Homo sapiens: one gene and its partner. The protein of the gene in region 2 interacts with the protein of the main gene of each other region in a pairwise test. Each region holds a gene or a part of one and is shown on either strand. Other genes may lie near its edges. The genes, in order: SH2D1B and SLAMF6.

Region 1 (3,820 bases), 1.9 Mb from region 2:
TTATAGGCGTGTGCCACCACACCTGGCTACATTTTTGTATTTTTGTAGAGACAGGGTTTCACCATGTTGGCCAGGCTGATCTTGAGCTCCTGACCTCAAGTGATCCCCCCACCTCGGCCTCCCAAAGTGCTGGGATTACAGGTGTGAGCCACCACACCCAGCCCAGAACAAATAATCTTTACCTGAAGAGTTGTTGCAGAAAATGGTAAAAGGAAAAAGACTTTTCTTCGCTTTATATGAACAGTGTAACCATGATTCAGTAAATTATAGTCCTATTTGGTTTATGAGTTTTAATGCAAAAATCTTAAATGAAATATTAACTTACCAAATTCCACAGTTTATGAAAAATAATAAAATATTATCAAGTGAAGCAATGCAAGGATGAAATGATATCAACAATTTTATTAAGGTAACTTACCTTTATAATGGAGTGAAGACAAAAGGAATGTGACTATCTCAATAGATTAGAGATAGAAAAAAATCACAATAAATGTCAAAATATTTCTAGTAAAAATTATAAAATAGCCTTTAACAAGGCTACAACAAACATAATGTTTAAATAAAGAAAATTTCTAAGCATTCCCTGTAATACTGGGAACAGTGTAAGAATACTCACTATCATGACTATGAACTGTTTAATGTATACAGGAGGCCCTAACCAATGGGTAAACATAAAAAATAAATGAGCATAGGTATTGCAAGGAAAGAGAAAATAAAATGTTATTATTTATAGCTGACAAAATCATTTACATAGAAAACACAATAGAATCAACAGGTAAACTAGTAGATCTAATGAGAGGGTTAACATTTCACCAACACCATATCCTATTAGAAATGTAATAAAACATAAGATATCATTTACAGCAACTAGAAATAGGAATTAATCTAACAGAATATACAAGACTTCAGTTGGGAAAATTTATGACTCCATGAAAGGGCAAAAAAGATGACCCAAGAACATGGATGTGGCATGTTTATGCATGGGAAAACATCACAAGAACGTCAGTTCTCTCCTATTTACAAATTTGTTGCAAGTTCATTAAAAATTCCAAAAAGAGGTTTTAAGCAATTTCACGTATTTATTATAAAATGTATATAGAAGAATCAAGGTCCATGAATACCTAAGCCAGTTTTGAAAAGTAAAAGAGGACATTTGTCCTACCTACCAGACCCAGGGAATAGTAGCCATAAATTGCTGTGACCCCAAATCTCACAATGCTCCACACTTTGGGGCTCCAGCCACAGTGTCTGTTCATCTGTTCATATTACCTCTAAGTCGAGAGCTCCTCTCTTTTAAAACTCTGAAGATAAGTCCAGTGGGGTGAAATACATTACTACAATTTGATGATAGGTAAGAGAAAGGGCATAGAATTTGGTATATTTCAAACTGACCAGGTCCTAATTCACATTTTGAACTAGCAGAAAAATTCAGCAAATCAATTTCAGTAAACCTTAAAAACCAATTCAACAAACCTCCCTCAGCAATGTGCTTCCAGTCAGTTTCTATGAACTAGGCACAGCTCTGGGCAGCACAAATTTCTACACACTGTGGAAGATACAAGGGAGACCCAACCGTGCTTTGATGGCACTTAGAACCTAGTTGGGAACAGAAATCACACATAGAATATTTTAGAAATCTCCACATACATCACTGTACAGAACCACATTCATGCTGTTGAAATGACTGATGCATAAGTGGAATTAAGCAAAACCAGGGAGAAAGTGTGGCTGGGGCAATGCTCACCAGGAAGTTTAAGATTAGAAAGAACCAGGAGGAGAGTAGCCCAGGCTGGAGGGAGAAGGGTGCACATGGGGGTCCAGCAGGTACAGAGAAGGTGCTGATCTGTATGCATCTCCATCACTCCCGATCCCTCACCTTCACCTGACACAAGCAGGCTCAACAGAGAGACTGGGGCAATGTTTATCATCCCACCCAACCACAGAGACAAAGAAACTAAGACCTGGAGATGGGCAGAAACGTGTTCAAAGTCACACAGCCACAGGACTGGAACTCAGGGCTTCAAACTCACAGACAAGTGTGCCCCTCCTCTGTATAAAGCTGCCCCTCTGACTGCATGGTCCAAAGGAGGGTGTCAACCATGATGTAGGGTGGTACCTTTAACAAGTCAAAGGGAAAATGTTCAGGCTGTCCCATTCCAAGAAAGAAGAGTGAAACTGGAGAGGGTTTTGAAATTGCTCCTGGTATATGTCTGGGAGGCGGGGATGTGGAGAGTGACCTCTGGTGCTGGTGGGCAGAACATCTTCAGTTACACAACCAGGAGAGTCTGAATTGTCCACTAGAGTTTGGTGCTCTGGACCTATGCCTGCAGAAGTGGGTCATCAGTGAGAACTGTTACTCATCTCTTCAACTTGCTTTGTCCGGCAGCCTTATCTTCAAGGCAAGACATCCACATAATCGCTGTTACTGTTCTTTGGAGGGAAAAAAAAAGCAGAAGACCAGCCATGAGACCACACCCAGAAGTCATATCAAACAACCCCACTCAAAGGAAAGAAGACCCCTCCCCAGGCACAGAGCCATGTTGATGCCACCTGAAAGTTGTATCTTTAAAGGCTGGGGTACTACAGGGAGCCCTCCTAACAAAATAGGAGATCTCTTTATAAGCCAAGCCTCAGACCTTCCAGCACAAGTGTCTCCATTCACCAGCAAGAAATCTGCACCTCCCTTGGAGTAAGAACATCTGAAGCTTCTTCTAAGGAAGCAATGGGAATGGGAGGAAGAGGTTGATGGGGAATATTTCCTCTTCAGTAGCTGAGAATTTTGGAGCCTGCTGTGTCAGCACTGACCCGGCATGGAAAACTGATGGAGTGAGATTCATGCCCAGGTCTTGGGGAAGATTTCTGAGGGTTCTCCTCCTGGGATTTATGATTCTTTTCTCATTGTTGAGACAAATGCTACCACCACCCCAACCAGTCCCAGCAACTCATCTGGGTTTGCCTAAGGGCTGCAGCACAGATACATTCCTGGGTTTCTAGATCTGCCACACTGTATACTTTTTATTCTATAAATTTGGGGGGGAAAGTAGCTGTGGGACTACATCTGCAGCTGGACCTATAGAAAGTGATTTTTTTGTGTCCATGAGTACACACTGCCCTTCATGGGGATGGGGGGACAGGGACACAATGGTAGGGAAGGGAGTTGTATTTTATGCTTAGCCTTGCTGGGGAAATGAGAAGCCGGCTATGGCAGCCTAAAGGGTGACTTTGCCGCAGACAGAGTAGAATGGGGATGGAGTGATTGCAGGCTCCCAGAGAACTCTCTGTCCTCTGTCCCTCTCCTAGGGAGGATATCTGATCTCATCCCATCACCTGCCACTGATAACTGCCATCCCTTTCACTGAGAATATAACCACACATTCCAACATGGGAAAACAGGATTAAGACCTAAGTGTTTCTGGAAGTCTGAGCTAAATTCAAACAACATTGCAACTGATAGTAAATTCTTTACTGAGAGCAGATTTCAAGAGTGTGGGTAAGGAAGAGTAGCTGCTCATGATATAATTTGAGAGGCTTAGGCAGGGATTCTCTGCACTCAGATTTACTGACCATCTCTCATTTTCCACTACGGCTTAATGCCTTTAAAAATGTATCTGACATAATTTGACACCCAGCACTTTATAAATGAATGCTTAGCAAATATTGAGCAAAGTGTAACAGTATACGCTTTGGGGAGGGCTTGAAGGGCTAGAGTGATTTTCTCATTTGAAAATCTGCCCATTTGCCCATTTATTCTCAAACTTGAATCGTCTGCACAAGGTCACAGAATGAATTTGAAGTCAGCTGTCTGCCCAGGAACCACTCT
Region 2 (3,820 bases):
TGCATATGGATAGCCAGTTCTCCCAGCACCAGTTATTAAATAGTGAATCCTTTCCCCATTGCTTGTTTTTGTCACGTTTTTTGAAGATCAGATAGTGGTAGATGTGCAGTCTTATTTATGGGTTCTCTATTCTGTTCCATTGGTCTATGTGTCTGTTTTGTACCAGTACCATGTACCGTGCTGTTTTGGTTATTGCTGCCTTATAGTATTGTTTGAAGTCCAGTAGCATGATGCCTCCAGCTTTGTTCCTTTTGCTTAGGATTGTCTTGGCTATATGAGCCCTTTTTTGGTTCCATATAAATTTTAAAATAGTTTTTTCTAATTTTGTGAAAAATGTCAATGATAGTTTAATGGGAATAGTAGTGAATCTATTAATTACTTCGGGCAGTATGGTCATTTTCATGATGTTGATTCTTCCTATCCATGAGCACAGAATATTTTTCCATTTGTTTGTGTCCTCTCTGGTTTCCTTGAGCAGTGGTTTGTAGTTCTTTTTGAAGAGGTTCCTTCACTTCCTTTGTTAGCTGTATTCCTAAGTATTTTATTCTCTTTGTAACAATTGTGAATGGGAGTTCATTCATGATTTGGTTCTCTGCTTGCCTGTGTGTGTTGTATAAGAATGCTTGTAACTTCTGCATTGATTTTGTTTCCTGAGATCTTGCTGAAGTTGCATGTGAGCTTAAGAAGCTTTTGGGCTGAGATGATGGGGTTTTCTAGATATAGGATCGTGTCATCTGCAAACAAAGATAATTTGACTTCCTCTCTTCCTGTGTGAATATGCTTTATTTCTTTCTCTTGCCTGATTGCCCTGGTCAGAACTTCTAATACTATGCTGAATAGGAGTGGTGAGAGAGGGCATCCTTGTCTTATGCTGGTTTTCACAAGAAATGCTTCCAGTTTTGCCCATTCAGTATAATATTGGTTGTTGGTTTGTCATAAATGTCTCTTATTGTTTTAAGATATGTTCCATCAATACCTGGTTTATTGAGAGTGTTTAACATGAAGGGATGTTGAATTTTATAGAAGGCCTTTTCTGTGTCTATTAAGATAATCTGTGGTTTTTGTCTTTAGATCTGTTTATGAGATGAATTACATTTATTGATTTGCATATGTTGAACCAGCCTTGCATCCCAGGAATAAAGCCAACTCGATCAGGGTGGATAAGCTTTTTGATGTGCCGCTATATTTGGTTTGCCAGTATTTTATTGAGAATTTTTGCATCAGTGTTCATCAGGATATTGGCCTGAAGCTTTCTTTTTTGTTGTATCTCTGCCAGGTTTTGGTATCAGGATGATACTGGCCTCATAAAATGAATTAGGGAAGGGTCCCTCCTTTTCAATTGTTTGGAATAGTTTCAGAAGAAATGGTGCCAGGTCCTCTTTGTACCTCTAGTAGAATTCAGCTGTAAATCCTTCTGGTCCTGGGCTTTTTCTTTTAGACTATTTATTACTGTCTCAATTTCAGAATTTGTTATTGGTCTATTCAGGGATTCAGCTTCCTCCTGGTTCAGTCTTGGGAGGGTGTATGTGTCCAGGAATTTATCCATTTCTTCTAGATTTTCTAGGTTATGTGCATAGAGGTGTTTATAGTATTCTCTGATGATTGTTTTTATTTCTGTGGGGTCAGTAGTGATATCCTCTTTTAACATTTTTTATTGTGTCCATTTGATTCTTCTCTCTTTTCTTCTTTGTTAGTCTAGCTAACTAGCAGTCTATCTATATTATTAGTTTTTCAAAAAACCAGATTCTGGACTCCTTGATTTTTTTGAAGCATTCTTCTTTTATCTATCTCCTTCAGTTCTGCTTTGATCTTGGTTATTTCTTGTCTTCTGCCAGCTTTGGAGTTTGTTTGCTCTTGGTTCTCCAGTTCTTTTAGTTTTAATGTTAGCATTTCAATTTGAGATCTTTCTAGGTTTTTGATGTGGGCATTTAGTGCTCTAAATTTCCCTCTTAACAGCTGCTTTAGCTGCATCCAGAGATTCTGATACATTGTCTCTTTGTTCTCATTGGTTTCAAAGAACTTCTTGCTTTCTGCCTTAATTTCATTATTTAACCAGGAGTCATGCAGGAGCAGGTTGTTCAATTTCTATGTAGCTATGTGATTTTGAGTGAGTTTCTTTGTCTTGAGTTCTAATTTGATTATGCTGTGGTCTGAGAGACTGTTTGTTGTGATTTCAGTTCTTTTGTATTTGATGAGGAGTGTTTTACTTCCAATTATGTGATCAATTTTAGAGTAAGTTCCATGTGGCAATGCATAGAATGAATATTCTGTTGTTGTAGGATGGAGAGTTTTGTAGAGGTCTATCAGGTCCACTTGATCTAGAGCTGAGTTCAAGTCCTGAATATCTTTGTTAATTTTCTGTCTGAATGATCTGCCTAATATTGACAGTGGATGTTAAAGTCTCCCGCTATTATTGTGTGGGAGTCTACATCTCCTTGTACGTCTCTAAGAGCTTATTTTAGGAATCTGCTTTTGTATTGGGTGCATACATATTTAGGATAGTTAGTTCTTCTTGTTGAATTGAACCCTTTACCATGCCTTTCTTTGTCTTTTTTGGTCTTTATTGCTTTAAAGTCTATTTTGTCAGAAACTAGGATTGCAATCCCTGCTTTTTTCTGGTTTCCATTTGCCTGGTAGATTTTCCTCTATCCCTTTATTTTGAACCTATGTGTGTGTTTGCATGTGAGATGAGTCTCTTGAATACAGCACACCAATGGGTCTTCACAATTTACCCAGCTTGCCATTCTGTGTCTTTTAAATGGGGCACTTAGCACATTTATATTTAAAGTTAGTATTGTTATGTGTGAATTTGATCCTGTCATCATGATACTAGCTAGTTATTTTGCAGACTTATTGATGTAGTTGCTTCACAGTTTCATTGGTCTTCATTGTGTACTTCAGTATGTTTTGTAGTGGCTGATAATGGCTTTTCCTTTCCATATTTAGTGCTTCCTTCAGGAGCTCTTGCAAGTCAAGCCTGGTGGTGGATGAATTCCCTCAGCATTTGATTGTCTGAAAAATATTTTATTTCTCCTTTGCTTATGAAGCTTCATTTGGCCAGATATGAGATTCTGGGTTGAAAATTCTTTTCTTTAAGAATGTTGAATATTGACCCCCAATCTCTTCTGGCTTGTAAAGTTTCTGCTGAGAGGCCTGATGTTATTCTGATGGGCTTCCCTTTGTAGGTGACTTGGCCTTTCTCTCTGGCTGCCCTTAACATTTTTTCCTTCATTTTGACCTTGAAGAATCTAATAATTATGTGTCTTGTGGTTGATCCTCTCATGGAGTATCTTACTGGGTTCTTTGTATTTCTTGAGTTTGAATGTTGGCCTGTCTTGCTAGGTTGGGGAAGTCTCCTGGATGATATCGTGAAGTATGTTTTCCAACTTTGTTTCATTCACCTGTCTCTTTCAGGTACCATAATCAGTTGTAGGTTCGGTCTCTTTACATAATCCCATAATTCTCAGAGATTTTGTTTGTTCCTTTTCATTCCTTTTTCTCTAATCTTGTCTGCCTATTTTATTTCAGCAAGATAGTCTTCAATCTCTTAAATTCTTTCCTCCACTTGGTCTATTCGGCTATTGATACTTATGATTGCATTGTGATGTTTTCATGTTGTGTTTTTCAGTTCCATCAAGTCATTTATGTTCCTCTCTAAGCTGGTTATTCTGATGAATAGCTCCTGTAATGTTTTATCCTGATTCTTAGGTTCTTTGCATTGAGTTAGAACATACTCCTTTAGCTCGGCAAAGTTCATTATTACCCACCTTCTGAAGCCTACTTCTGTCAGTTCATCCTTCTCAGCCTGAGCCCAGTTGTG

Evidence for each region.
Region 1: the proteins of SLAMF6 (region 2) and SH2D1B interact in binary tests that used the Homo sapiens proteins (3 or more experiments, as listed by UniProt).

The regions. Positions count from the first base shown.
Region 1 is NC_000001.11:162,394,886-162,398,705, forward strand, and holds the end of SH2D1B (SH2 domain-containing protein 1B), read right to left. Parts: intron 2,431-3,820; coding exon 2,395-2,430; 3' UTR 383-2,394; downstream 1-382. UniProt on the Homo sapiens protein: Cytoplasmic adapter regulating receptors of the signaling lymphocytic activation molecule (SLAM) family such as CD84, SLAMF1, LY9 and CD244. In SLAM signaling seems to cooperate with SH2D1A/SAP.
Region 2 is NC_000001.11:160,512,992-160,516,811, reverse strand, and holds part of SLAMF6 (SLAM family member 6 isoform 1 precursor), read left to right. Parts: intron 1-3,820. UniProt on the Homo sapiens protein: Self-ligand receptor of the signaling lymphocytic activation molecule (SLAM) family.